Homo sapiens: one gene and its partners. The protein of the gene in region 4 purifies or fractionates together with the protein of the main gene of each other region. This does not show direct contact. Each region holds a gene or a part of one and is shown on either strand. Other genes may lie near its edges. The genes, in order: CFAP20, VPS45, CC2D1B, RFX3, MINDY3, FOXJ3 and NUP155.

Region 1 (3,626 bases), on a different chromosome or scaffold from region 4:
AATTGAGGTCTTCTCTCACTGGAGGAGCTTCTAAGATCCACTGTCTGGCTTTGTTTTTCAGATATTTTATTGCTGCTGTCTAGTCCTGTGTTAAGCTTTTGTTTCTGGGTCCAGCGTTTGTTAAAGCAGCCGCTGACTTAGGGCTGAGGGATTCACTGGGTGGCGTGTCTGAATCTTTTAGATCTGCTTTCCAGTGTATCCTCTTGGACCGTGTGTTATTGTTGTGCATACCACAAAGGAAGAGAGTCCAGGAGTGTGTTTATTAGTATTTCCTCTCTCTACAGCACCACATATATCACATGCCCTGCAGACCCCAAGAAGACGCTGGGAATTAAACTTCCTTTCCTTGTCATGATTATCAAAAACCTGAAGAAGTATTTTACCTTCGAAGTGCAGGTAAGTATGTGTACATGAATGTGTCCACTCTTGGCTATACCAAAGTGATAGCCTTTGAACTGATGGGAAAAAGTGACCCTACAAAGTATCTTTATCCTTTTGCATGTATTCTTTTCTGCTTCTAGTATAAGCCCAGTGCAGTCCTTGTTATGTAAATTTGATATTAGTAATAAAATTTAATCAGGTTTTTAAAGAAACAGCACCTAGAAAACCTAGTAATTTCAAAGTGTCAGAGTTAGCGTGGTATCCATTTGGGGAGTGATTATTTAATAGTGGGTGGCTGTTCTGTTTTAGTATTTCTGATTTTTCAAAAGGAAGAACATTTATATACTCTATGGTCTGAGAGCCTGCTGACTGTGTTATATGTCATAAGCAGCTGGTGTTGTCTTGGCAACAAACAAGATAAACTTGCTACTTCCGGGCCATCTGCATGCAGTGTATGACCTGTGTCTGGTCTGTTTATTTTCCTCTAAGTCTCAGCCTTGGGAAAGCAAGCTGTGGGAATTCAGGTCCTTGTCTGGACAAGGTTGTGTGCTTCTTCCAAGACAGAGCTAGTGTGATGCTTCTTCTCTGTATTTCACAGGTACTAGATGACAAGAATGTGCGTCGTCGCTTTCGGGCAAGTAACTACCAGAGCACCACCCGGGTCAAACCCTTCATCTGCACCATGCCCATGCGGCTGGATGACGGCTGGAACCAGATTCAGTTCAACTTGCTAGACTTCACACGGCGAGCATACGGCACCAATTACATCGAGACCCTCAGAGTGCAGGTACTGCTCCTTTCCCAGATAGAGCCCTGGGTTGGGGATAGGGCACACTGCGTCTAATATTGGCTTGTGGCCCACATAGCAGAACAGTGTGGGTTTCTGGCTTCAGTTGCCACACTGTCCAGGGAGCTTTGGCCTCACAAAGGTCCAGGAAATATTCAGAAGTCGGGTCAGGTATAGAGGTGAATACAGCAAGTAAGACCTCCCTCTTGCCAGAATCCATCCCTAAGACAAGCCAAGGAGATGCCGGAGATGACGCGTTTCCAGTCCTGGAAGAGGGCCTCTAGAAGATTCAGGAAAAGGGGGAGAACAGTCACATTTCGCCTCTCAAAAGAAGCATTGCCTTGACAGATCCATGCAAATTGTCGCATCCGACGGGTTTACTTCTCAGACAGACTCTACTCAGAAGATGAGCTGCCGGCAGAGTTCAAACTGTATCTCCCAGTTCAGAACAAGGCAAAGGTAAGCCAGTCTTCCCCAGAGGAAGGTCCACCAGTGAGTGGGGGGAGCTGTGTTCCTGGAAGGTGCTCTGGTCTAAGAATTCAGCTGCAGAGCCTCTCTGTGTTGACACTTTGGGGTGCCTTTATATCGCAAGATCTTAGGTCTCCTTCCAGCACTGAATCAGGAATGCTCCTGTGAAATACTCTGTTACTGCTGTTTCCCCTCTCCACGGTGAGAGGGGATGAGGCACTTCCTACTACTGGCTCACAGAACTTCAGAAAATATCTTAACTTTTTTTTTTTTTTGAGATGGAGTCTTGCCCTGTTGCCCAGGCTAGAGTGCAGTGGCACGATCTCAGCTCACTGCAACCTCTGCCTTCCAGGTTCAAGGGATTCTTGTGCCTCAGGCTCCTGAGTAGCTGGGATTACAGGCGCCTGCCACCATGCCCAACTAATTTTTAATTTTTATAGAGACGGGGTTTCACCATGCTGGCCAGGCTGGTCTCAAACTCCTGACCTCAAGTGATCCGCCTGCCTCGGCCTCCCAAACTGCTGGGATTACAGGCGTGAGCCACCGTGCCCAGCCCCATCTTAACTCTTAATCAGCCCAAAAGTATTATCAGCTGATAGGTCCCTGCTAACACAAGGGTGGGTGCTTCCCTGCCTGTGTGCTGCAGATGTGTGTCCATTCTCCACAGTCACTGTCCACTCAAGTGTCACCAGAGGCAGGGGGCCTGTGACACTGACCATCTATTTTCTAGTAACTTAAACTGATGCCACTTCTCTGTTTTTTCCCTTCAGCAATAACTGGAATTGTGACTCGAGGGATAGACCCCTGGATGTGACTCTTCTTTTTAAAAGGAAACTATGTGGAGGACGATGCAAAAACATATTTATCTTAGTTTGCTCTGCTGTAGTTCTGTTATTTATACTTGGTGTTGCTTGTCATGGACACCGGTGAACATGCCGTAACTCTGTGACTGCATTGTAAGTGCAGTGGGGGTAAGCAGTCCTGTGAGTGGCGCATGAACGCTGGAGCTTATTCCGCCGCCTGCCCCAGTGTGGGGGGAGATACCTTTACCATGAACTTACAGAATTAAAGATGGCCCATAAGGAATTCCAGACCAATATTTCTTCCTGCGGTTTATTCTATGTTTTATATATTATCTAAATATATGTATATGCTGTGTCATACTCATAATCTGGAAATGAATAAAGTGATATATTCCTGGTTTGTAAATTTGTTCCTAGTTTGTCTTTTTTCATGGTGATGTTTGTTTCCTTTGTGATATGAAAAGAGAACTATTTCCATTGAACATCTTATACATTTCATGCTGTGAAATGTCTTGTATTAAGTATCTAAAGAACAAGACATATTATGCAGCTGACCCTTGAACAACACAGGTTTGAACTGTGCGGGTCCATTTATATGAGGATTTTCTTCCACCTCTGCCACCCCTGAGACAACAAACCAGTCCCTCCTCCTCTCCCTCCACCTCCTCCTCTTCCCCTCCTCATCAATGTGAAGACAACAATGATGAAGACCTTTATGATGATCCACTTAATGAATAGTAAATATATTTTCTCTTCTTTATGATTTTCTTAATAACGTTTTCTGTAGCCTACCCTATTGTGAGAATACAAAATACAGTATGTAATTCATACAAAATATGTGTTGAATGGCTGTTTATATTATCAGTAAGGGTTCTAGTCAACAGAAGGCTATAGTAGTTAAGCTTTGGGAGAGTCAAAAGTTATACATAGATTTTTGCATAAGGGGGTCGGTGCCTCTAACCTCTGAGTTGTTCAAGGGTCAACTGTATAAACTGGTTCAGAACAACTTTGAAGACTAAATGGGAAAAAAAAAATAGTATGTGACCAGTGGAATCATCTTGCTAGGGGTTGGGTCCTAGGTTGAGCTTAAGACAGAATGACATAGTCTAAATTGCACCTAAAGCATTGGAGCAGATCACCATTTCTCTATTTGAGTTCCCGCTGAAGTACTACTGGCCTTGAATGTA
Region 2 (3,981 bases), on a different chromosome or scaffold from region 4:
TCTTCTTACATAAAAACAACTAAAGACAATTTAAAAAAATTTAAACCACCTACATTAGCATAGAATTCATCATTTTCAGCAGATAGGACCACTTCTCTTAAGTCTTTACTGATTCCCGGCACTCTGGAAAGATCAATCCGATTGTTGTTTATGCCTAGTAGTTCGTGGACCATGGCCTGATATGTCCACTAAATAAAGAATTATGAAAAAAAAAGGTAACTGACAGAATATGGAAATAGTAAACGTTCAGGAAAACAAATAAAAACTGATAACATTCTTTAACTAGTCTTCTTTACATGAAGATTCTCGAGTTAAATTTTATTCATACTTTGTGCTATAAGCATTAAGACTGTCATTTTAATTGATTAAACACTGAAGAAAAGTCAAAATACTTTTAGATTTCATACTTTTGGAAAAAGGGCAGCAAGATTAATATTCTTGATAGAAAGAAAACAAATTAGAGCTATTATTAGCTCCAATTTTTTGCCTGTGAATTAAGAGTATATTTTTGGCTTCACAGATAGAGCTATATTGGTACTGCAGTTACAAGCTGTACCATTTCCTGTATGCTTCTATGGTTTTCTGCAGCATGAGAAGTGTGTTCTTGCAGATCTGAGTGGTACTATATTTGTCCTGGGAACACTAATATTATCAGAAAAACCTTGTGAGTTGATCAAAACACTGGGATATTCAGAAACTTACCTTTGAACCCATTTTATTTTATATTTTTACCTAAGGGGAGATGAGAGGAAGGACTGGTTTCCAGTCTCACAAATTGAGAATTTATTTGGTAAAACTGGAAATGAGAAATCTCCAAATTTTCCCTTTTCACCAATTATGGAGAATAGATTACTTTCAGTCATAGGTCTGTTAGACAAAATGAAGTATTTTCTAGCATGTTCCCTTCTGCATCTAGAATCTAAATGCTAGAAATATTTATATACATATTTTATCTTAAGAAAACTAGATTTATTAAGAAATAATTTAGAAGGTTATAAAAGAAGGTGCTTATTTCCTAAAAGATTTGCCAAAGGAATTCTTGAAAAAGCAAGTTCCATTAAGTCGCACTTAAAATAAGTACAACAAGGCTGGGCATGGTGGCTCATGCCTGTAATCCCAGCACTTTGGGAGGCTGAGGTGGGTGGATCACTTAAGGTCGGGAGTTCGAGACCGGCCTGACCAACATGGTGAAACCCCATCTCTACTAAAAATACAAAACTAGCCGAGCATGGTGGCACATGCCTGTAATCCAAGCTACTCAGGAGGCTGAGGCAGGGAATCACTTGAACCCAGGAGGCGGAGGTTGTAGTGAGCCAAGATCACACCATTGCACTCCAGCCTGGACAATAAGAGCAAAACTCCATCTCAAAAAAAAAAAAACGTACAACAAAATGTTTTATGCTTTTATGGATAGCTTCTTGTACATGCTTCTAGCACTTACTCTACAATTAAAATTATGTTTATTTTTCTCATAATTGGACCATGAGCTCTTTGAGGACAGAAATTGTAACTTTTAACCTTTTATCTCTAGTACTTAGTTTAGTACGTGGCACAAAAGAAGTCCCCAGTGAAATCTGTGGGATAAATAGTTGCTTTTCTTTGGGAGACAGAATAATAGGCAATTAATTTTCTTTCTACTTTTTGATATTATCAAAAGTTTCTTTGGTGAACATATATTACTTTGAATTTTAGGAATACAAGGCTATTTTATACTACAGAGAAGTTTCACTCCACAGATTTCCCTTAGCATTAACATTAGTACAAGCTGGGAAGAAACTGAAACATAGACTGTGCCTTTCTCTGTAAATACAAAGTCACAGCCGGGCGTGGTGGCTCACGCCTGTCATCTTAGCACTTTGGGAGGCCGAGTCGGGCAGATCACTTGAGGTCAGGAATTCGAGACCAGCCTGGCCAATATTTAGACAGAAACCTTGTCTGTACTAAAAATATTTAATACAAAAATTAGCCAGGTGTGGGGGTGTGCACCTGTGATCCCAACTACTCAGGAAGCTGGGGCATGAGAATTGCTTGAACCTGGGAGGCGGAGGTTGCAGTGAGCTGAGATCACGCCAATCTGGGTGACAGAGAGAGACTCTGTCTCAATAAATACATACACACATACAAAATCACTATTAATAGAGCACCCGCTATGTGCACTGTTCTTATACTTGAAGGAGAAAAAACACTGGTGAGACTCAGTCTGCCTTGAAGAAATATGTAACGTAGGAGAGGATGTAAACAACCAAAGCTACAACATGGCAAGTACAGCATGAGACATGAGAGAGACACAAAGGTCTACAAGTCTACAGGGATTTTCAGGAGATAAGAACAATATCTGACTGAAAGAATACAGGCTTCGAGATGTTGAAGAATGGCTGGATGTTGGAGATGGCTTTTGAGTGTTTTTTTTTTTTTTTGAGACAAGAGTTTCGCTCTCGTTGCCCAGGCTGGAGGACAGTGGCATGATCTCGGTTCACTGCAACCTCTGCCTCCCAGGTTCAAGTGATTCTCCTGCCTCAGCATCCTGAGTAGCTGGGATTACAGGCATCTGCCACCACGTCCAGCTAATTTTTTGTATTTTTAGTAGAGACAGGGTTTCATCATGTTGGCCAGGCTGGTCTCAAACTCAGGACCTCAGGTGATCTACCCACCTCGACCTCCCAAAGTGCTGGGATTATAGGTGTGAGTCACCGCGCCCGGCTCTTCTTTTTTTTATTCTTTGCTATTATTCATATAAATCATTTTATTTATTTATTTATTTATTTTTGGAGACGGAGTCTTGCTCTGTCGCCCTGGCTGGAGTGCAGTGGCATGATCTCAGCTTACTGCAACCTTCGCCTCCTGGGTTCAAATGATTCTCCTGCCTCAGCCTCCCAAGTAGCTGGGACTACAGGTGTGTGCAACCACACCCGGCTAATTTTTTTGTAGTTTTAGTAGAGACGGGGCTTCACCATGTTGGCCAGGTTAGTCTTGAACTCTTGACCTCAGGTGATCCAGCCACCTTGGCCTCCCAAAGTGCTGGGATTACAGGCGTGAGCGACCGTGCCCGGCCAGATTGAGTGGTTTTAACAGCAGTATTTTGATAGGTGAAGATGGGAAGAGAAGGTATTCCAAACATTCTAGAGTTTAGAAAGCAGTCACAGTAAAAGCATGCTGGCAGGAAACCATGTGGCATTATCTATGTAAGTGGTGAACTCTAGGTTTTATAAGAGGTTTAGCCCACATTGTGAAGGCTCTTGGATGCCAAGTTCAGGAGTTTCTTTTTAACCTAGTAGGCAAATGGGAACCAATGAAGTTTTTTAAGCCAAGAGTAATAAGATAGAGCTGTGCTTTAGGAAATTGTACTTGTGGAACATTTGGAGTGAGAAGAAATAAAAAGTAGGGAACGAAGTAGATGACTATTTCAATATTCTTGCAAGAGATTAGGATCTAGACCAAGGCAATGGCTGTAAGCATGGAAATGAGGAGACAGAAGGAAACACAGGGAAATAGAATCTACAGAATTAAGAAGCTGTCTTGATTAGGGGTGGAGGTACTGGCAGAAAGGTACAGGAGAGATGAAGCAGAAGAGTTATGATGACAGTGGATGGAAGAATCATGATACCAAAACACCAGGAAATACAAAGCAAAACCAAGAATAGCTAAAAATAAGGAGGCAAATAAATGGACCATGTTTTTACTTCCCTATCTGTATTTTGATGAATATCACTTAAAATTATCCTTCTATTATGCCAAGAAAGGGTTTTGTACCTGGTTTAGCAATGGGGTGATGGCATCATCACAGCGATCTAAAATAAGGAGCAATGGAGGAACCTCTGTCCGACGGAATTCAAACAGTTCATATTCTTTAGTTATCACTTGCTGTGGGTGAGAGAGAAAGATGGTTTGTGCAACCATCTAGTTACATATAGAAATGATATAAATAGGAAATTAATAAACACTACATTTAACAATAGTTCTTTGCACCCACATAGATCTTCC
Region 3 (3,981 bases), on a different chromosome or scaffold from region 4:
TTCGTCCAGGGCCTGTCTGCCCAGCTGGGTGGTGACGGGAGGGAAGGCAGAGCTGGTATGCAGACCTTGATCTCTGACTTCTGGTCCAGAGCTCTTTCCACAGCACCCAGACAGCTGTGCGCTCTCCACTAGCATGCACCCTGTCGTCCTCAGCAGCCCCAGTGCCCACAGCGGGGCCAGGCTTGGGAAGCCTCACTAAAGGGGTAGCAGTCTCTGGCCTGGGCTCCCAGCCTCCTGCCCCTCCCTGCCTGGAGCCCCTGTTTCCCTAGGCCTTGGTACCTCACAGTCTGGAATGTCTTCAACTCAAAGTGGTGGGTGGGAGGGTCGAGGCCCTGAGCCTGGGCCAGCTGCAGGATCTCCAGCTGTTTCTTGCGGTCCTGAGCAAGCTTCTCAAATCTGACAGGGATGGGTATGTCAGCATGATGGTGGATTTTCTGCTCCCCACCCTATGAGCCCAGCCCCAGCCCTTGCACTTACCGGGTGGTCTCAGCCACGTTGCCCTGGTGCATGAACTGCTTGGAGAACAGCAGGCACTTCTGAAAATAGAGGCCCAGAGTGACTCCCGAGCCCAGAGCAGGACCTGCCTTGGTTGGCATTCAAGGCTAGACTTCTCAAAGCTTCAACTTTCCTCTGTAGCCTCACCTCTCTCCTCCCACAACACAGCCCCAAGGGCACTACTCCCAAGTCCCACCACGTTTCTCTGCCTACACTTTTGTCATTTTCTCTTCTGAGGAGAGCCATTCCCCAAATTAGCAACTCCTTCCATCAAAACCTAACTCAAACATCCCCTCAGAAGGCAGCCTTTCCAGAACAGGTGGCAGTTCAGATAGATAAATACATAAACATACACGCACATCACAATGTTCTTTCCCTCTTCTCTGTTGTTTGTACCACCCTGAAAGGGGTATTATCACCCCATCTCATAGATGAGGAAAATGTAGTTCAGAGAAGAAAGTGCCTTGCCCAAGTCACACAGTGAGTAAGTGGAAGAGCTGAGAATTTTGAGTCCAGGGCTGTGTGGTCTGAGCTCCAGGTCTTCCTCCACGGGGAGGCTGTGGGCACAGAGGGGAGGAACAGACGAGGGGCCTGCTGACCTCTTGTTGCTCCAGAAGCATTTTTTGCAGCTGGGCATACACCTCCTCCGCCTTCTGGGAGAGTCGCAGGTCCTCATGGTGGATGAGGATGAAGTCACCCTCCTCATCCGTCAAGGGCGAAGGCACCTACCCAGGTCACAAGGCCCCTCGGGCCCCAAGAGTCAGATTACTCCTCTACCAAGTCCAACAAAGGCAGGAGCCCAAACTAAGTAATTCTTCAGCTTCTACTAAAGTCCAGTGATGACAACTCATCGCCTCCCATTCTATCCCAAAATAACACTCTTGCCTCCCATGGCCTGGCCCAGCCTTGTCATCTCTGACCACAGGCAGCCCACCTTCCCTTCTCCTGGTTTCCTTTGGGGCCGTGAGGTAGAGGAGTATGAGCAAAAGGCTCTTTCCCAGCTGTCATCATGCTCTGTCCAAACCCTGCCTCATCCCAGAAGCTGCCCTTGTTCACAGCCTGTCAAGCCTGCCAGCCGCCACCTCCGCCTGAGAAGTCCTGGTGGTTAACCAGGTGGGACTCACCTTGGACAGATCAACAGGTCTGCCAGATCGGGCCTGGATGATCTGAGCCTCAAGCCATTTGGCTACCCGCAGATAGGCTTTGGCCTGCTCCAGGTCCTGGCTGCGCTTGGCCTGCAGGGCTGCCCGCTGATACTGCAGTTTCCGTGCCTCCAGCAGTGCCAGCTGCTCCCGCACTGAAGGGAGAAGGCCACTGGTTAGGGCCACACCTGCCCTCTCTAGGCCCTCAGTTCTTCACCCTGCTTGTCCCCAACTCACCAGATGGACTCGGTGACTCCTTAGAACTTGAGGCCCTGGGCTCAGGCAGGCGCTGGGATGAAGGGACTGTGGGCCGTGCAGGTTTCTTGGCCACTGGGGCCTGTGCTGGGGGCTCACCCTGCAGGTGCCCAGGAGGCTGTTAGGAGGGGATGTGTTCCCTAGCATAGTCATGGCGGCTCCCAGACTTGGGCTGTCTTCCTAACACTGTACTACATCGCTGTGTGACCTGAGATGGGTGGCTTCTCTTCCTGGGTCCTAAAAGATCTGAGAGCTAGAAGCAGCCTCAGAAGCTCTCACATCTAACCTCCCCAGCAGGAGAGAGACTGCAGGGTAATGGGGATGGAGCCGGGGCTCTGGGTTCAGAAAGACCTTGGTTTGAATCCTAGTTCTGCTATTTCCTAGCTGGGTGTCCTTGGGCAAGTTTTTTCTCTGTACAGTGGAGGAAAGAATATGTACCTTATTGGGCTTGTTAGTATGGACAACAGGGTCTGGGTTTACCCCTCACCTGCTATTCTCCCCACCAGCCCTGGAGTTGAGCCCTCAACCAAACCTCGTCCTCGTCTTTATCAGCCGGGGCTGAATCCTCTGCAGAGGCCAGTTTCTCTGCAGCTGCCAATGTCGCTGCCACTGCGTCCTCCTCAACACCCATAGTGGACTCCAGGCCAGGGATGGGGGGAAATCCTGTGGGAGAGAGACAGCATGGGAGGGGCAGGGAGCAGCCTCAGAGAAGCACAAAGCTACCCGGGGCCCTGTCTGGGGCATGGCTCTGCTGGGGCATGGCTGGGATGGATGGCTCCACAGAGGGGAGGCAGACGCATGAGAAGTGGGAATCACTGGCTGTCCCCCATTCCCTTCTTGCCCAGGGACCACCTCCTCACAGAGCCCCTAGGCCATGCCCCACTTACCTGGAGGAACAGGCAATTCAGCAAAGTTGACTTTCCGTCCTGCTCGGTGTGCTCGAATAGCATCTTGATATTGCTGCAAGGGAAGGAAGGGAGGGGCCTGTGGTCGGCAGCAGCCCACAGGCCCCCTGCCCAACATGACACACAGTGGGGCAAGGAGAGGGAGACTGGTGGGAAGACAGCAGCCCTGGGAGAAAAAAAGATCCCTAAGGCAGCAAGAGCCCCAGAGAGACAAACAGATGATGGTTCAGAAAAGACAAGGACTAGCCGGAGGACCAGGGAGACAGAGCACCCAGCCAGGGAAGAGGCCAGCACAGGCAGGGGCTGCATAGCCGCGGGCCCACCTTGGCAATGCGCTCATGCATCCGAGCCTTGCGCTCGTCCCCACCACTCCGGGCCTGGATGCCCGCCTCGCGGTACTTGTTCAGCCTCTGCTGCAGGGCATCCAGCACTGTCTGTGACTCTGTAGGGGCCACTTGAAGGAAAGAAGGAAGAAGTGGGCATCAGGTCAGCCTGCCCTCCAATGCCTGCAGGTCCCCACGCCACAGTCCCACCATCCTGCCCTACCTGGGGTTGCTGGGACGTCAGGGGCCATCACTGGCTGCACTCGCTCCACGGCTGGGGGAATGACTGAGGGTGCTGTGGGAGCCTGAGAAGCCTGCTGGGGCTTCAGATCTGGGGGACCCAGAGTAGAGGTGTAGGTGGGAGGGCCTGGCCAGCCCCAGGCCTGCTACTCCTCCCCAACCCCACCGCAGCCTGAGAAGATACATACTGACCCTCAGGTGCCGGGGGCATGGCACTCAGATCCACGGGCTGCCCCTTCTCCAGGGCCTCCAGGACAGCACCGAATCTCTGCAGAAGTTGGAAAAGCAGGTGTGGGTGAAAGACAGGGGACCCCAAGAGCCTGGGCTGAAACAACCCCCACTTAGGCCAATCTCACTCAATCTCAGTCTAGCTCCCTTTCTGAGCCTGTTTCCCCTATCTATAAAATGAGGGTGGGTGCCCTGAGCCAGATGCCATACCTTCCCAATCCTCATGAGCTCTCGGGCACGGTCTAGCTCTCCAGCCCGCTTGGCACTGAGGGCAGCCACTTTGTACTCTCTCTGTCGGGATGACAGCAGGGCCCGCGGGTCTGGGTCTAAGTCTGAAACGGGCTGGGCAGAAATGCCAGGGAGGCTGGTCTCAGGTTGGGAGGGGTTGTCTAT
Region 4 (3,981 bases):
TCTTTTGTCACAGAAGCATATACAAACACATACACACACATATTTGCAGAATATGAAGAAGAAAGCCTAGGAAAAACCTAGATGATACCTGTAGAAAGACCATTTTAGCAGAAACTGCCTGGCGGCTTTAGGAAAACTGGGTCTTCCTTCATAGGGTTTCAGTGCTTGCATCATCACATTGTCAAGCCACGCAGCCCACTGCTCCAGGGTGCTCTGCTGCTGAAGAGTCATCTTGAAGTCTGTTTCTAGTCTCTGAACCATGTTGTCATCACACTGGCACACCCAGGAAGCCTGCTCCTGAGACAGTAACACAGAAAGAAAAGGAAAAGTTCAATTCAGCATCCTTTCATTGAATGCCAGCACACACACTAGATGCAAGAACAGAAAATTATAATAAAAGCTTCACACAGTTAAATGAATCCAGAAAATAAAAAACTACTTGTCAATTGTTAGGGTAACACAATCTTTATCAGTTTTAAGGGATGAGTATTTCTCGTTGCTCACTCTGGTACACAGAAAAGTGATGACACATGTAAGTATCATTTGGTTTTTCTACATTAACTAGTCTGTGTAAAAGACTAAAATACATGATGACTTCAAAAAATAGAAGTCTGAACCTACAGTAGGCAGGGTCTTTCATCCTATTCAGCTTTCATACTGCTTTCAGAAGTTGTCTTTTTGTTCCCCATCAGATAAAACTTTAAAACCAATTTATTTGAGAAGATTTAGGGTAAGTCAGACAGATAAATAGATAAAATTGGCCAAAAGAGGTCCCCTCAAGATTAAAACAGAAACAAACACTAAATGATACTAGGTAGAAGCATATGCTGCTGTGAGTTATATGGATTGGGAACAGAAATCTCAAGGGCTATCAAGGCAAGGCTATGAATGCAAATTAATTCAGAGAAATGAAAACCACAATAACAACAACAACAAAAACTCTTGAGAAAATGTAGACGTGCTTCCTGCCAAAAAATGTGATTATTGCAATTTTCCTTCTGGTTCTGGTTGGGAAATGTTTGGTAACAGCAATGAAAATAGGAACTTTTAAGGCTACTTTTCAGTGATTGCCATAAGTACTGTGATGTTTCCAGTGCTATGTTGTATTTTAAGATTTAAAAAAACCTATTCACTCAAGGCAAAACATAATTCTTTGGTAACGTAATATTTGACTGGGAATGAGAAGACATAGGTGTTAGGTCCTGAATAAACAAAACTAACCTCAAGCAATTAATTTATGTGGGCCTCAGTTTCCCTAAGCATAAAATTAAAGAAATGAAATTTAATGAAAAATTTTAAGCTGGGTTCATTGTGTCCAGATAATTTTGTCAAGATAGATTTCTTTGGAGAAGTGTCTGTGAGGCTCCTAATAAAACCTTGTGAATACATATGTATTTTTCTCAAAAGAGTGTCTATAGCTTCTTTTTCTATATGCTCTCAAAAAACAAGTTCATTCAAATTAACAACTTCAACTGAATAAATCCATTATCTCCATCTTCTAGTTCCAGTATCTCTCCTGATCCTACAGACTTTACCTATTCAAGGGACATTTCAACCTGAAGGCACTTCAAATGCAAAATGCCCCAAACTCAACTTATTTTATTTTCCCAGGGAAACCTACTGTTTCTTCTATATCTCAGCTGATGATACTATTCACTGTCTTTTTTCCTCTTATCTAATTAATCATAAATCCATTCAGATGTTACCTTCTGAATACCACTTTTAAATATTTTAAGTATACTAAAATATCATTATAGAAAAAACTGTGAATACAAATAAGCAAAAAAGGAACAAAACATTAAGAATACTTAAAATGGCAACAGTAAGAAATTACAGCATATTGATGTATGTACCTTTCAAACTTTTCACATGCATATAGAAATAATTTATGCATATATCATCATATATATACACTATATTATTTATGCATACATTTATATTTTAAATATATATTTGTATTATAAAACACATATATCTACACATACATTTTATATTATTATATGCTTATACATACTTAAATGTTTAAAATAAAAGAGGATCATATTATATTTTCTATTAGATATTCTGCTTAGTTTCACTTAGAAATATTTAATAACCATCTTTCCATGTAGGCAAATTAGACCTATCTTCATTGTCCACTGAATGAATTTGTTTTATTGCATCATATACTATTATTTACATAACCAATCCCACATAGTTAGACATTTGTTTGTTCCAACATTTTAGTATTACAAATAAAGCTGAAATTAGCAGGAGAGGTTTTTTTTGTTTGTTTGCACGTTGATAATTGGAAGGAGAAACTTACTAGTATCCATGAAGGAATTTAATTTCATTTCTTACCATAAATTCAAACTCACTATTTACTTGGCAGTTAGTTTTTGCCAAGAAAAGATGATAATCTAAAACCTAACTTAGAGAAATAAAACCACAGCACATTATTCTGGCTTTTCAAACTACTTTATATTATACTTCATTTTACTACTCTCTAAAGTGAAAATATACTAACAATAGAGCGCATTGTAAATATTCCCTTGTGAAACGAATGTAGATATTTCAAGTCTATAATTAAAAAAGCTAAGGACACTTAGAGATGTTCTTAAATTAGAAAAAAAAAATATCCAAAATGAAAAGTAGTCAGGAACTTCAAAATCAGAATGCCTTTTAAATACAGAAACACAACTATATGCAATAGCTAAGTTATCAGGTCAGCCCACCGAAAGCTATTTAGCCCATAATGTAGATCTCAAAAACCACCATTTACACAAAAAATTAGAGAATTATGCCATCGTAATACTATCAATTAAATGAAACAGGAAACCAGTTATACTGCAATAGAAAAATTATCTTAAATGCATAAAGAAAAGAAAATTTAATTAGAGGAGAATGAAGTAGTGAAAAGTGATATATGGATATCCTGAAAGGAACTTTTTAGCACTTTCAAGCTCTTAAGTGTATTATAATATTGACACACATGTAATTTCATTGTTTTAAATAGAAGTCTCCTTATTACAAGAGCATCATTCTTATATTGTCAGATTATTGAGGTTCATGTTATAGAAGCTGGGACGACTTCCAAATGAACTGGAGATGGGGATAAAGGTAAAATGGGAGGCAAGGGACTCTGGGAAAATCTGGCAAAACTAGGAAAAGAAAAGGAAAGAAATAAGGGTGTTAAAGAGGAAAAGTGCTACCTTGAGAAAGAGATTACTCATTAATATGTACAGAGCTGTGAAAAGTAAAATGTAGGGGGAAATGAAGGGCTCACTACTGTGTCATGGTACTCTGAAGAAAGGAAGAAGGTTTTGGAGGGCAGATGCCGAATCATATGGGTTTCAGGAGTAATGGCTATCATGGTGGACCCAGAAAAACATGATAGTCAAAAATAGAGGAAAAGAAAGGGTATTCTTAAAGTTGGCAGGTAGAGGATAAGTCGTACAGTAGACATATCACTGATCATTAATATGCAAAAATGTTCCCAAGGTTAATGCTTATAACCAGGGAAGAACTCATTTGTAGAAATACTTCATTGGAATGCAGATACACAAATATATATATATGTATTTATACATATAATAATGCTAACAGAACACTGAAAAACTTTTTCGGATATTATTATAAATAATTCTTTAAAATGTTTTCTGTTACTGAGTTTAAATTACTTTCTGAAACTAGAAGCTGCCTTACTTCTTCAACTCTTCTTAAGAGACTTTTAAACAAATCTTTTCTGAAAAAAGATTTGAAATAAATATTACAGTATAGATTTTAAGGCAATATTAACTTTTAATACTCTTGCTTATTCAGTTAATACATCCCACGGAAATATGTAAAGTAAATGGTTTTGTAAAGCTGAGAAACTTTGTTCTTGTAAAGATTATGTACTTGTATGTGTGTATGTGTTTTTCTAGATGGATAGATGATATTTTTTAAAACTTCATATATATAGTTTTAAATTAGATATAAATAGATATAAATATCTAATAT
Region 5 (3,981 bases), on a different chromosome or scaffold from region 4:
ATTAGAGCAGAAGTGCTTGGGCAAGGTGCCATGACCCACCTCCATGGCCTCAATCAGGCTCGGATGCCTGGCGGCTCAGACTCCATCTCACTTTGCCAGCATTCTCCTTTTGTCTGTTTCCTTTCTAACAGGACCTTGCTATGCAGCTTATAATTTTAGCTCCTGATTAACTTCAAAACATATTTCTGTGACTTAATGACATCCATACTTTGCTTTATAGCTGCTGTATATTACTGTCATTTTAACAGTTCATCCTATTTGTTTTCTAATCTTTTTGTTGGTGTGTCAGAAGCTTGTCACAAACATGATTTGAAAACTTATACTACATACAGGTAGAGTGGCCAAGCAGACCAAGGACAGGATTGGGAATCAGGAACTCAGTTCCAATCCCTGTTCTGCCAATGACTTGCTGTGTGACCCTGGGTGAGTCACTTGATCTCCCCGTCTCAGATGCCTCATCTGTAAAATATGGATAATATTTGACCTATCTTGCAGGGATTGTGTAGGTGAATAATTAGTGATTATAAAGTACCTCCTATTACAAAGCTGTGCAAACATCAAACTCTAGATGAAGCACTCATTCGCACATTAGAAAACAACATCCAAGTTTGCATATATATATACATGCAAAGAATATACATTGTCAAGAAAATTTGGATGCTGTATATATATATCTTTGGACCTGACAAAAACATCTAATTTATATTTTGTTATAAAGATAGCAGTAAATTTTAGTCTTTTAGATTTGGTCTAATTAAAATTATGTACTTAATTTACACTGTTTTCTGTAACCTTCCACAATTTAGATACATGAAGTCAGCATGGGCAGATCAAATTAAAAAGGAATGTTAGACCTTATTCCTTTAATATTAGCTATAACTAATACATATATATTATATATATATATATATACTATAACTAGTATGTACTGTAACTCATACTTGAATAAATGCAAAGATAATAGACACACAAAAAGGGGAAATCAATGCAGCCGAACTCTAGCTTTACGCCAGGTTGAGTACACCTGGCAGTGAATCACCTATGTGCTTTGTCAACGGTTAGCAAAGGAAAGCTGCAAAGCATCATGGGTAGGAGCATGGTCTCTGAGCTGGACTAAGTTTCACTCCCAGCTCTGTCATTTCCTGGCTGCTTGACCTGTAAAATGGAGATATACAGACAACACTTCCTTCATAAGGTGCTGTGAAACTTAAGCAAAGTACTTAATACAATTTCGGGTAAATGCTCAATATATGCTGACTATGAAGGTTATTTATTTAAAAATATTTTTTCCAGTAAAAAGTCTCACTGTTACCTCTTTCTTCCTTTAAATGGATAAGTAACAACTTTCACTGGACTAACTACGATGTTGATTTAGAAACACGCTACACTGCCAAGGGTAACGATCTGTATGGGGGTGTATTTAGTCATGGTGAAACTACTGCTCTGAAGTCCAATGTCAGTTTCCAATGCAGACTAACATATACTGGTCAAATCCAAAGATGGCTGATTCTAAAATGTGTCCTCATAGTAAAGAGACTCCTGGAATAATCTTAGGTAGCAATTGTACGGGAATCGAACATTGTTACATACTCACATAATTATTTCATCAACCCAGTTGAACACCGACGACTACGTGAATTATCATACCTTTTCATTATAATTTGACTGCTTCAATCCATTGTAGTGGTAGACAGTAAAAGATTCTGGACCACTGGAGCCCTATTATAAATAAAGGACTATTAACACTTTAAATTATATTTATATCAGGCAATTTCTAATCAACTGAAAGTAAAATGCATGTTTCTCAAATCCTTATCCTTTGACTGGGGACTCATTTGACAAAAGAAGGAACTTAGGTTTATGGAGTTGTAACTACCAGAAAGCCCTGAAGTTGAAAGTGTTGCCTCTGAAGAAGATGCTGGAAAGTAGGGAAGGTTGATTTCCATTATAAGCTCTTCAGAACTAACTTATTTTTTTTTTAATTATGTGCATGTATCACTATAACTTTTTTCAAAAGACAAGCTTCTAAAACATTTGCTAAAGTATATCTCCTTTTCTATGTAAATAATTTGTTCCTCTCAATGAATTGAGAAAAGCAGTAGCATCACTTTTACTCAGACTAAATACACTTCCAGTATGTACCAATACTTCCAATTTGGCCCACGATGTTTAATTAGTGGTTTCTTTTCCAAAAAATATCCAATATTTGAATATTGTCAACCATTAATTAGTGAAAAGAGCACTGTGAGAAATGAAAACATACTTATAATGCTTAAGGCGATTTCAGTAATATTCAATAAAGAAAGGATATCCTATATATCACTAACAGAGTAAGCTTGTAGAAAAATGGGTCATGTTATTCCCACTATCTTAACCTTGCTTTTCAATTAGCTAAAGATCACGTTCAACCCTCTTAACCTGGCGTTCAAGGCCATTACAGGCCTGGCTCCCAGTGATTTCCCTCAGGGCCCCTGGCTGAGTCTGCCTGGATAGATCCCCCTTGTCTTCCTGGCCATATCCGATGGATACAAACAGGCACATGGCCCTCCTTAGAATTTTTTCCAACTGGAATTAAGGGAAGACAGCTGCTGGCAACTGGAGCTTCAGCTCCTACAGAAAGATAGGCTGTGAGAATGTAGCCACTTTAGAGACAGGGGATGGGAGGTGGAGACCTCCCAGTGCTGTTCAAGGACTCCAGGAGCACTTTCCCGGTGCTTGCTTCTTCAATTCACCTGAGCTACTCCTTCCCCTTCATGTATTTTCCCCCTCACTTATGCCAATTTAGGCTGAGGTTCTGTGACCTGCAATCATGAGTCTTAAAATCATACAGGGCTTAATCTACCTTTTTAGTCTTATCTCCAACTACTCACCTTTCTGAATTCTGTTTTGGACAAGCATGACTCATTTCATCATGAAAAGATCTTTTGTTGGCCTTTTGCACATTCATGATTTTTTTTTACTCTTCTCTAAAATGCCCTCCTCTCCTTCCTTTTTCCAGACCTGGTTTAAATCTTACTTTTTCTGTAAAGTTTTTCCTGGACACACTAGTTAGTTTTTTACTACACTGGAACTTAACCTTTATCATAACAATTGTCTAAATAATTTGAGAAGGAATCATATAGTACTACTTTGTATCATCTCTTCTATTATTTTGAAAGACTGTTTAATTTTTCATGTCTTACATTCCCAACTAAAGCCTAAAATTGTTTTGTATCCCACTCAAAATGCCTTACAGAAAATAGAAAAATCAATTTGATCGTTTCCTTAATTACAGGAGTCATTGCAATTAGTTACATAATTTGACTCTTGGCTATCAGAGTTAAATTATTTGAACTTAAATAACCATTTTCCTGTAACTGAATATAATTTATATTCCCTATTTCCAGTAATTAACTGGCATAAAATACAGAAATACCAACAAAAAGTAGTGTAGCCCACTGGTAAAGTGCATAGACTCTGTGGTTAGACAGACTATATTGGATTTCTGAATCAGCTACTAAAATACCTAGTGTATGACCTTAAACAATTGTCTTAAGTTCTCTAATCTTCAATTTCCTCATTGTCAAAAAATTCCTGAATCAGCTACTAAGATACCTAGTGTATGACCTTCAACAATCGTCTTAAGTTCTCTAATCCTCAATTTCCTCATTGTCAAAATGGGGAAGATAATAGTATGGTGTTTGGAAGGCACACAGTGCCTGATGGAGAGTATGTGCTTGGGAAAGGGGAGCTGCTTCTGCTATTCTTATTTAAACGAATGGTCTTGAAAAGCTTATAAATATTACCACTTTTTTCTTCCTGCATCAGCCTCTACATCATAGCAAATAAGTGTTCTTCCACAGGACCTACTTGAAGCATTGTAAAGATTACCGAAGTTAAATATTTTCCTGGCTGTCCTTGTCACTCCAGTTTTGCAACTTCATTTATTTGTGGCTGATTAAATAAATGTTTACTGGGCCTCGTGAGGTGGCTCATACCTGT
Region 6 (4,680 bases), on a different chromosome or scaffold from region 4:
TCTGCCTGGGACACTCTTCCCCAGACAACTGCATGGCTGACTCCCTCAGCTCTTTCAGGTCTCCGATTTAAAGTCATTTTATAAATGAGGCCCATGCTGACGGCTCTATTTAAAATTGCAGGCCAGGCGCGGTGGCTCAGGCCTGTAATGCCAGCACTTTGGGAGGCCGAAGAGCGCGGATCACTTTTGAGTTCGGGAGTTTGAGACCAGCCTGGCCAACATGGTGAAACCCCATCTCTACTAAAAATACAAAAATTAGCCGGGTGTGGTAGCGCGCGCCTGTAATCCCAGCTACTTAGGAGGCTGAGGCAGGAGAATCACTTGAACCCGGGAGTTGCAGTGAGCTGAGATCGCGCCACTGCACTCCAGCCTGGGCGGGAGAGCAGGATTCCCTCTTAAAAAAAAATTGCAAACCCCCTTCCTCCAGTTTTCCTCATACCCCTTACCCTGGTGTATTTTTTTTTCCCCATATGCCTTCTAACATATTACATAATTCTCTTACATTTATCATCTTTCTCCTTATATTAGAATGAAAGCTCCAACAGGGAAGGGTATTTGTTTTCTCTCTCTCTTCTGTTTACTGATACATCCCAAGCACTAAAATAGTGTCTGGCAACCTTAGTAGTGATTGGCAAATATTTGTTGAGTGAATGAGTACATGAATCTTCAGAATCTTGCTAGTCTTATAAAGAAAAGGAATATGTGAATACTTTGAATCTCCAGTGCCTAGAAATGCTTGACCAAACGGCAGGTGTTCAATGTTTACTGAAGGAATTGTGTGCTCAGATCTGCTGGAGGTCTTTATCTGAACCCTTTGAGACTATGTCAAAAAAGTACCCAGGGCCAATTCACTCATGCCTCTCCTTTTCCTCTCATCCAATCAGCCTAGTATTCATCTAACAAATATCTAAGTCTCCAAATATTGAGCCACCCATTGTGAGTTCAAAAGCGTGTTTGGCGCTGCAGGGGAATATGTGACTAACGCGAATGAAGCAACAGCAAATACTACACTGGAATGTAATTAAGTGTGAAATTATAGGGCAGATTATCAGTGCTAATAGTTTAGAGAAAGAATCAGTGAAGACTGACGTAGAAGTAAATTCCAAAGTTCACTCGTCGACCAAACTACCCTTCTAAACGCTCCACCTACTGATAGTAGTACCATAACCTGGGTAGCTACCTTGAGAATTAGAAGGGCCTTTAGAGGTCCAACTCCTTTAAGAAAGAAAGAAAGACCAGGCACGGGAAAGGCCTCCGCAGACATGAGTCTAGCACCTGGGACTCATGAAGTTCTGAAAAGAGGGGTGTCCTGAAGGTCCAAGGCGCCTTTGTTGGGGGTCCCGGAATCCGCGGTGTGCCAGGTCGGAAAAGGCGTCCGCTTTCCTGGAGAGGAGGCTAAGGTGCCGGGCGCTTCGGTGAGGTGGCGGATGTTGGGGGGCGGGGGAGGGCAGAAGGCACCATTCCTTCGGGGCATGGGGCCCCAGGTATCCGTGGGCAGGGTCCAAAGCCACCGATCCCTACTGTCCTCAACTGCGGGGTTGCCTCCGCCGCCTTTGCTCCCAGACGCCACTCCGAGGCACAAGGACCCCAAGTCGCTCGGAACTGCCGGCCGCTAGATGACACCGGCTGCGCCGATGCAGAGCCTCGGGAGTCTCAGGGCACTACTTGTCCCAGCGGAGGGATCCTGCGTGCGTCGAAGCGACCGTGACCGCGCAGGGACTTGACGCCGCTGACGCCGGGCCGGCGGCGCAGCGACGCCGCAGGAGGCGGTGGCGGCGAGGGCGGGCGGGGGATGCGGGTCGGGAAGTAGTTCCGGGTGCGCGGCCCCGGATGTTGGCTGCTCTTGCTGCCGCCGCCGCTCTCGGGGCTGCTCGGGGCCTCGACCGCTCGCAGTAGGCACCGTTGGGACCTTTCCCGGGGGGGCGGAGACGCACGGAGCGGCCGGGGGCTCGGCCGGGCCGTCCCGGCCTGCGCAGCCTGAGGTAAGTGCCCCCCGCCAGGGCGGCCGGGCCTGGGCGGCGGGCGAGGAGGCGGGGCTGTGGCATCTCCCGGGACGGAGGCAGGGGCTGTCCTCCGCGAGACGCCCTCTCTCTTCCAGCCGCAGCCGCGTTGCGGGGTGGGCGGCGGGTGGGGCAGGGGGCCTGGGCCCCGGCTGGGGCCTGGCGGACGCCGAGGGCTGGGTCCTTCCCTCCCCCGCGGCGCTTCTCAGCTGCTGCTGCCCCTCAGCTGGGAAGCAGCGGCTTCGCGTCTCCCGCCCCTCCCCCAGGCGGGGCACCGGGGAACCAGACGTGGATCCCGGGGGCGCCTAGTCCGAGGGCAGCGACCGTCTCCTTCCCTCCATGACCTGTCCCTTGGCCTGGGCTAGCCCCCGACCCCGGCACTCTGCGGCTTCTTCCCTTTAAGCTTGGGGGCGCTTTTCTGCCGGCAGGGCGGGCTGTACCTCACGCCTTGGAGTGGCCCTTTGGGGAGAGGAGGCCCATGCGAGGGTGCTTGCGTTCCCGCCCATCCTGTGTCTGTGTCCTTTGCTGGGATTAGGGCAAAGGCAGCCGTTCCATGCGGACGTGTTGCTGTCCTGTGTGTGTTGCATCCTGCCCACGTGGTAGAGTGTCTCCCGCCCCCCCTCCCAGCTCCATTTTTGCAGCTGGTGAGGAGGGAGGTTAACGGGATGGTTTTTCCTCTGTGATTTCCTCCGGGTGGCGTGGAAGGTGTTAGGGTCAGTTTGCTTTGCCGAGGCCGGCTGTTGGTTAGATGAAGAATCGAGAGTTGTACTCTGAAATTGAGGCCAGTAGGGGACATAACAGGGCTTAGTTTCATTAACATCTTTTTTCCTCTTCCATTAGCTGCTCTTATTCTTTTCTCTGTTGCTTAATTATAGAGAATAAGCGCTTGCTACCGATGCATTCAGGTGTATAGTTTTCATTTCTCTGTTTTACTTTTTGTGTGTCTGGTTAGCAAAGGTTTTACTATTCCGTGTTGGTGCATTCCACGTCTGTGTTGTCCCTGGTTGGATTCCTGAATGAGTTAGAGCCATTCACTCTAATTCCTGAAGGAGTTAGAGATTGGTGGGCACCTTTTTGGTCTTTTTCTGAGATTTATTTGTGTGTGTTTTCTTCCTTCTATTTTGTTTCCCAGTGAAAAAGCGTGATGTCATAGGAGCGTTATATGCATAGCTCTTTTTCTCACAAGGCAGCACTAGTTTCACCTAGTCACTTATTTTGTAGAAGCTCTTTTACTTCACTTTTCCTCTTACTCTGTTGAGTACCCATTGCACACTCTTTTTTTGAAACTGGTTTGAAACATGGTTTGAGTAGTTTTTTTCTTAATGTCTCTTCCAGATTAGGGTTTCCATCTTCTGTTTTGCTGTTTTGAGACCACAGATTGTTCCCGCAATAACAGTGAGAGAAGCCTATTCCTCCTGGTCCCTAGCAAATATTTATAGAAAAGCAGTAACTCCTCTCTTTTTCTGAGTGGTATATATTATATAGACGTGATTAAGTTTTTTAGTTTCTTAGATAAATAGGAGGATTTCTCTTTTTGCTTTTGTGTCTCAGAATTGAGGTGAATCTTCTTGGTTTTGTGCTGCCGAGGACAAAACTGGGAAGTTTCTCATGCTTTCATTAGATTTTTTTTGGATGAGGCTAGAACGTGTTTATTTTGGCTCTTTTTTGTTCATTAGTTTGGGTAAAATAAAAAAACTTAATGTTTCAAAGTCACTTACTAGATTCCAAAGTGGCCTGCATTCTCACTTTTTCACATTGTACATTCTTTGAGTATATTTTTGACATTTTTTTCCTTTTATCTGGTACAGTTCGTATATTCCCTTTCCTTCTATGTAGAATGAAAATATTTAAATATAGATTTTAGATTATATTTTTTCATTATGCTAAGTATGGGTGGGGCAGTGGAAAATGGAGAATGTTGTTCTGATACATACTGAGGCTTTTTGTTTTTTTTTGGTAAGTCAGCATTTGTGTACTTCTGTAAAGTACCGAGTTATCTATGTGTGAAGTCTGTATGAAGAGACGAATAAGATACGTGGTCTCTTGGAAAGCTTCAACTTATATCGAAAGAACAGAGTTTCTTTTTCTGTTCGGGAAACATGTACATCATTCAGAATTATCAAACTGCATCAAACTTCTCCTTGGGATAACAGTACAACCAAGGTCAAAAGTGTAAGGGACATTTGAGAAAGATACAAATTTCCAAAGGGAAAGAGGTGTATTTCAGGAGAGTGAAGGGGCCTGTGCAAAGCGAGAGAAGTGGCAATGTACAAATGATATCAAGGAGCTTGACTGTCAGATCATCTGTGTTGGTGAATAATAATAAATGAGTTTAGGATTGGTGAGGGGGTATTGATGGAGGATCTTTCAAGGATAGAGGGTTTAGTTTGATAGGGTACCACAATGGGTTCTAAAGAATGAGAGTAAGATGATGCATCTTGTTCCTGAGGAAGGTTTTTGTTTCAGCTGAGTGTCCTGGGAGTGGAGAGACTGATTAGAGTGCTTATGGAGAATTTTAGGAATAAGCTGATGAGGGTCTGATATAAGATAGTGGTTGTAGGAATAAAATAATAGCTAACATTTACTTACTGTATGACAGGTATTCTAAGCGCCTACGTTTGTTTAATTCATTAAATCTTCATAATAAGGTATTAAAATCAGAAGGGACTTTGGGCAAGTT
Region 7 (3,981 bases), on a different chromosome or scaffold from region 4:
GTCTCGCTCTGTCAGCCAGGCTGGAGTGCAGTGGCACGATCTCAGCTCACTGCATCCTCTGCCTCCCAGGTTCCAGCAATTCTCCTGCCTCAGCCTCCCGGGTAGCTGGTATTACAGGCGCACGCCACCACGCCCAGCTAATTTTTTATTTTTTTATTTTTTTATTTTTTTTATTTTGAGACAGAGTCTTGCTCTGTCACCCAGGCTGAAGTGCAGTGGTGCGATCTCAGCTCACTGCAAGCTCTGCCTCCCAGGTTCACGCCATTCTGCCTCAGCCTCCCAAGTAGCTGGGACTACAGGCGCCTGCCACCATGCCCGGCTAATTTTTTTGTATTTTTAGTAGAGATGGGTTTCACCATGTTAGCCAGGATGGTCTCAATCTCCTGACCTCATGATCCACCCACCTCAGCCTCCCAAAGCGCTGGGATTACAGGTGTGAGCCACCGCGCCCGGCCATTGCCCAGCTAATTTTTGTATTTTTAGTAGAGGTGGGGTTTTACCATGTTAGCCAGGGTGGTCTCGATCTCCTGACCTCAGGTGATCCACCCATCTCAGCCTCTCAAAGTGCTAGGATTACAGACATGAGCCACTGCGCCCAGCCGAAATGTATAACTTTTTAGCATTAGAGTTTCAGTTCTTGTCCAGTTCAATTACTGTATGTTTTACATTGCTTTCTGGATTACATTTATTTTTCAGATATTTAAAATTTTTTATTGAGTTTTAAGGTATAATCTGCTTACTTTTTAAAAAATTACTTTAAATCAAATCTAACATAATGTAAAGGCCATAACTATTTGCACAGGTATTATTTTGAATCCCAAGGTATTTTTTTCCCCCCAGTAGGGAACTAAAACTTTCCTTTTTGTTATTTGAAATAGGATCTTTTTTTTCCAATGAAGAAATATATATATATATATATTTTTTTTTTTCCTTTTTCTTTTTTTTTTTGTGAGACAGAGTCTTGTTCTGTCACCCAGGCTGGAGTGCAATGGTGCAATCTCAGCTCACTACAACCTCTGCCTCGCTAGTTCAAGTGATTCTCCTGCCTCAGCCTTTTGAGTAGCTGGGATTACAGGCGCATGCCACCAGGCCCAGCTAATTTTTGTATTTTTAGTAGAGGTGGGGTTTCACCATGTTGGTCAGGCTGGTCTCGAACCCCTGACCTTGTGATCTGCCCCCTCTCAGCCTCCCAAAGTGCTGGGATTACAGGCGTGAGCCACCACACCTGGCCCCCAATGAAGAAATATATTTAACAGTTGCCTTTTAGGCATATTAAGACCTTTTCCTTCTGAAGACCTATCAGAAATATTTTATGTTAGCAGGGTGACTATTGTACAGTAGAGACATAACCTTGATCATTATTTTCATGTGCCAGCTAAGGAAAAATGTATCCAACTTAGTAGTAAGTCATAGGTCTTCATTCTTTTCTTTCCCATCAGTGAGATTTTATGAGGGTGTGGTGGAACTTTCTCTTACGGCTGCAGAGAAAAAAGATCCTCAAGGTCTTGGGCTTCATTTCTATAAACATGGAGAACCAGAAGAAGACATAGTTGGACTTCAGGCCTTCCAAGAAAGGTGCATTCCATTACGTTAGCAGATTGTCATCTTTATGGATACAGACTTTTCTTTGCATAATGTTTTTTGTTTTTTGTTTTATGTTTTTTTTTTTTTTTTGAGACAGAGTCTTGCTCTGTCACCTGGGCTGGAGTGCAGTCGTGTGATCTTGGCTCACTGCAATCTCTGCCTCCCAGGTTCAAGCTATTCTCGTGCCTCAGCCTCCCATGTAGCTGGGATTACAGGTGCACACCACCACGCCTGGCTAATTTTTGTATTTTTAGTAGAGACAGGGTTTCACCATTTTGGCCAGGCTGGTCTTGAATTCCTAACCTCAAGTGATCCACCCACCTCAGTCTTGCAAAGTGCTAGGATTATAGCCATCAGCCACCGTGTCTGGCCTCTTTGTGTAAAGGTCGACCACCCAAAGTGCTGGGATTACAGGCATGAGCCACCATGTCCAGTAGGATTTCATTTTAAAGGATAATTTTTAAGTATTCCCAAATTTGTTGAGACTGTTAAAAAGGAAATGTGTGTCCTTAAAAGAAATATAGGCCAGGCACAGTGGCTCACGCCTGTAATCCCAGCACTTTGGGAGGCTGAGGTGGGCAGATCATGAGGTCAGGAGTTCGAGACCAGCCTGGCCATCATAGTGAAACCCTGTCTCTACTAAAATACAAAAATTAGCCAGGCGTGGTGGTGCACACCCGTAATCCCAGCAACTTGGGAGGCTGAGGCAGGAGAATTGCTTTAACCCGGGAGGCAGAGGCTGCAGTGAGCTGAGATTGCACCACAGAACTCCAGCCTGGGCGTCAGAGCAGGGCTCCGTCTCGGAACAAAGAAGAAATATATAACCTTTCTATAACATATATATATGGAGGGTGTTTTGTTTTGTTTTTGTTTTTGTTTTTGAGACAAAGCTTCACTCTGTCTCCTGGGCTGGAGTCAGTGGCACCATCATAGCTCACTGTACTCTTGACCTTTTGGGCTCAAGTGATCCAGTGATCCTCCTACCTCAGCCTCCTGAGTAGCTGGGACTACAGGCACATGTCACCACACTCGGCTAATTTTTTTTTTCTCTTTAATTTCTGTAGAGACAGGGCCTCACTATATTGCCCAGGCTGGTCTTTAACTCCTGGGCTCAAGCAATCCTTTCTTCTCAGCCTCCCAAAGTGCTGAGATTAGAGGTGTCAGCCACCACATCTGGCGAAAACATATTTTTTTATTACTATATTTAATGACTTTACCCTTTTAATGTTTAACCAAACACTTCTCAAACTTATTGAAAAAGTATATGGTTTGTATTATTTTAAATGCCAAATATGTACATCTATTCTGCCAAATAGTCTTGAAATCCTTGTATATACTTAGGTAAGGTAAATCAATGGCTTTCTTTTTTGTTATTTGTTTTGTTTTGTTTTTGGGGGGTTTTGTTTTTTGTTTTTGAGACAGGGCCTCATTCTGTTGCCTGAGCTGGAGTGCAGTGGCATGATAATAGCTCACTTGCAGCCTTGAATTCCTAGGCTCAAGCGATCCTCCTGCCTCTGCCTCCCAAGTAGCTGGGATTACAGGTGCACACCGCCACGCCTGGTTAATTTTTTGTTTCGTTTTGTTTTGTTTTTTGTTCGTTTGTTTTTTGAGACAGGGTCTTGCTGTCACCCAGGATGGAGTGCAGTGGCATGATCTCAGCTCACCTCAACCTCTGCCTCCCAGGTTCAAGCAATTCTTGTGCCTCACTCACCTGAATAGCTGGCACTACAGGCATGCACCACCAAGCCCGGCTAATTTTTGTATTTTTGTCAGATACGGGGTTTCACCAGGTTGGCCAGGCTGGTCTCAAATTCGTGACCTCTGGCAGTCCCCCTGCCTTCGTCTCCCAGAGTGCTGGGATTACAGGTGTGAGGCACTGTGCCCAGCCAATTTTTTTGTATTTTTTGTAGAGACGTGGTCCCGCTCTGTTGCCCTGGCTAGTCTTGAACTCCCAGCCTCAAGCCGTCCTCCTACCTTGACTTCCCTATGGCTGGCATTACAGGCGTGAGTCACCACACTTACCATCATTTGCTTTCTAGTTAAATAATGTAATTGTTCCTTTTCCATTTTCTTTCAGATTAAACAGTTACAAATGCATTACAGACACACTTCAAGAACTGGTAAATCAAAGTAAGGCCGCTCCTCAGTCTCCCAGTGTACCCAAAAAACCTGGTCCTCCAGTGTTGTCATCTGATCCAAATATGCTGAGTAATGAAGAAGCAGGACATCATGTAAGGGACATAGTATATTTTCATTCTGAGAATACACTGTTTAGAAGTTCTCCATGGTAATGGTAGCACAGTCATCTTGGGGAAAGGTGGTAGTTCTTAGAAGTTATCATGTAAGGATTCTTGATTTCTTACTGGAGTTTATAGGGCTAAAGGGTTGTGATGCCCA

The links.
Region 1: the proteins of RFX3 (region 4) and CFAP20 purify together in Homo sapiens (affinity purification with mass spectrometry, with the first as the bait; one large-scale study listed by BioGRID). This does not show direct contact.
Region 2: the proteins of RFX3 (region 4) and VPS45 purify together in Homo sapiens (affinity purification with mass spectrometry; 2 studies listed by BioGRID and IntAct, with this or other methods). This does not show direct contact.
Region 3: the proteins of RFX3 (region 4) and CC2D1B purify together in Homo sapiens (co-immunoprecipitation; one large-scale study listed by IntAct). This does not show direct contact.
Region 5: the proteins of RFX3 (region 4) and MINDY3 purify together in Homo sapiens (affinity purification with mass spectrometry; one large-scale study listed by BioGRID and IntAct). This does not show direct contact.
Region 6: the proteins of RFX3 (region 4) and FOXJ3 purify together in Homo sapiens (affinity purification with mass spectrometry, with the first as the bait; one large-scale study listed by BioGRID). This does not show direct contact.
Region 7: the proteins of RFX3 (region 4) and NUP155 purify together in Homo sapiens (affinity purification with mass spectrometry, with the first as the bait; one large-scale study listed by BioGRID). This does not show direct contact.

What each region holds. Positions count from the first base shown.
Region 1 is NC_000016.10:58,112,811-58,116,436, reverse strand, and holds the end of CFAP20 (cilia- and flagella-associated protein 20), read left to right. Parts: intron 1-284; coding exon 285-396; intron 397-979; coding exon 980-1,168; intron 1,169-1,381; exon of another isoform or gene 1,382-1,516; coding exon 1,517-1,627; intron 1,628-2,406; coding exon 2,407-2,412; 3' UTR 2,413-2,845; downstream 2,846-3,626. UniProt on the Homo sapiens protein: Cilium- and flagellum-specific protein that plays a role in axonemal structure organization and motility. Microtubule inner protein (MIP) part of the dynein-decorated doublet microtubules (DMTs) in cilia axoneme, which is required for motile cilia beating.
Region 2 is NC_000001.11:150,077,549-150,081,529, reverse strand, and holds part of VPS45 (vacuolar protein sorting-associated protein 45), read right to left. Parts: intron 3,862-3,981; coding exon 3,751-3,861; intron 189-3,750; coding exon 54-188; intron 1-53. UniProt on the Homo sapiens protein: May play a role in vesicle-mediated protein trafficking from the Golgi stack through the trans-Golgi network.
Region 3 is NC_000001.11:52,355,907-52,359,887, forward strand, and holds part of CC2D1B (coiled-coil and C2 domain-containing protein 1B), read right to left. Parts: intron 3,978-3,981; coding exon 3,799-3,977; intron 3,629-3,798; coding exon 3,553-3,628; intron 3,452-3,552; coding exon 3,344-3,451; intron 3,252-3,343; coding exon 3,121-3,251; intron 2,853-3,120; coding exon 2,780-2,852; intron 2,556-2,779; coding exon 2,425-2,555; intron 2,011-2,424; coding exon of another isoform or gene 1,993-2,010; coding exon 1,875-1,992; intron 1,793-1,874; coding exon 1,620-1,792; intron 1,221-1,619; coding exon 1,095-1,220; intron 537-1,094; coding exon 478-536; intron 397-477; coding exon 280-396; intron 1-279. UniProt on the Homo sapiens protein: Transcription factor that binds specifically to the DRE (dual repressor element) and represses HTR1A gene transcription in neuronal cells.
Region 4 is NC_000009.12:3,256,903-3,260,883, forward strand, and holds part of RFX3 (transcription factor RFX3), read right to left. Parts: intron 298-3,981; coding exon 89-297; intron 1-88. UniProt on the Homo sapiens protein: Transcription factor required for ciliogenesis and islet cell differentiation during endocrine pancreas development. Essential for the differentiation of nodal monocilia and left-right asymmetry specification during embryogenesis.
Region 5 is NC_000010.11:15,780,508-15,784,488, forward strand, and holds part of MINDY3 (ubiquitin carboxyl-terminal hydrolase MINDY-3), read right to left. Parts: exon of another isoform or gene 1,727-3,981; intron 1,720-1,726; coding exon 1,648-1,719; intron 460-1,647; coding exon of another isoform or gene 370-459; exon of another isoform or gene 1-369. UniProt on the Homo sapiens protein: Hydrolase that can remove 'Lys-48'-linked conjugated ubiquitin from proteins.
Region 6 is NC_000001.11:42,332,361-42,337,040, reverse strand, and holds the start of FOXJ3 (forkhead box protein J3), read left to right. Parts: upstream 1-1,805; 5' UTR 1,806-1,982; intron 1,983-2,085; exon of another isoform or gene 2,086-4,680.
Region 7 is NC_000005.10:37,304,891-37,308,871, reverse strand, and holds part of NUP155 (nuclear pore complex protein Nup155), read left to right. Parts: intron 1-1,439; coding exon 1,440-1,575; intron 1,576-3,661; coding exon 3,662-3,815; intron 3,816-3,981.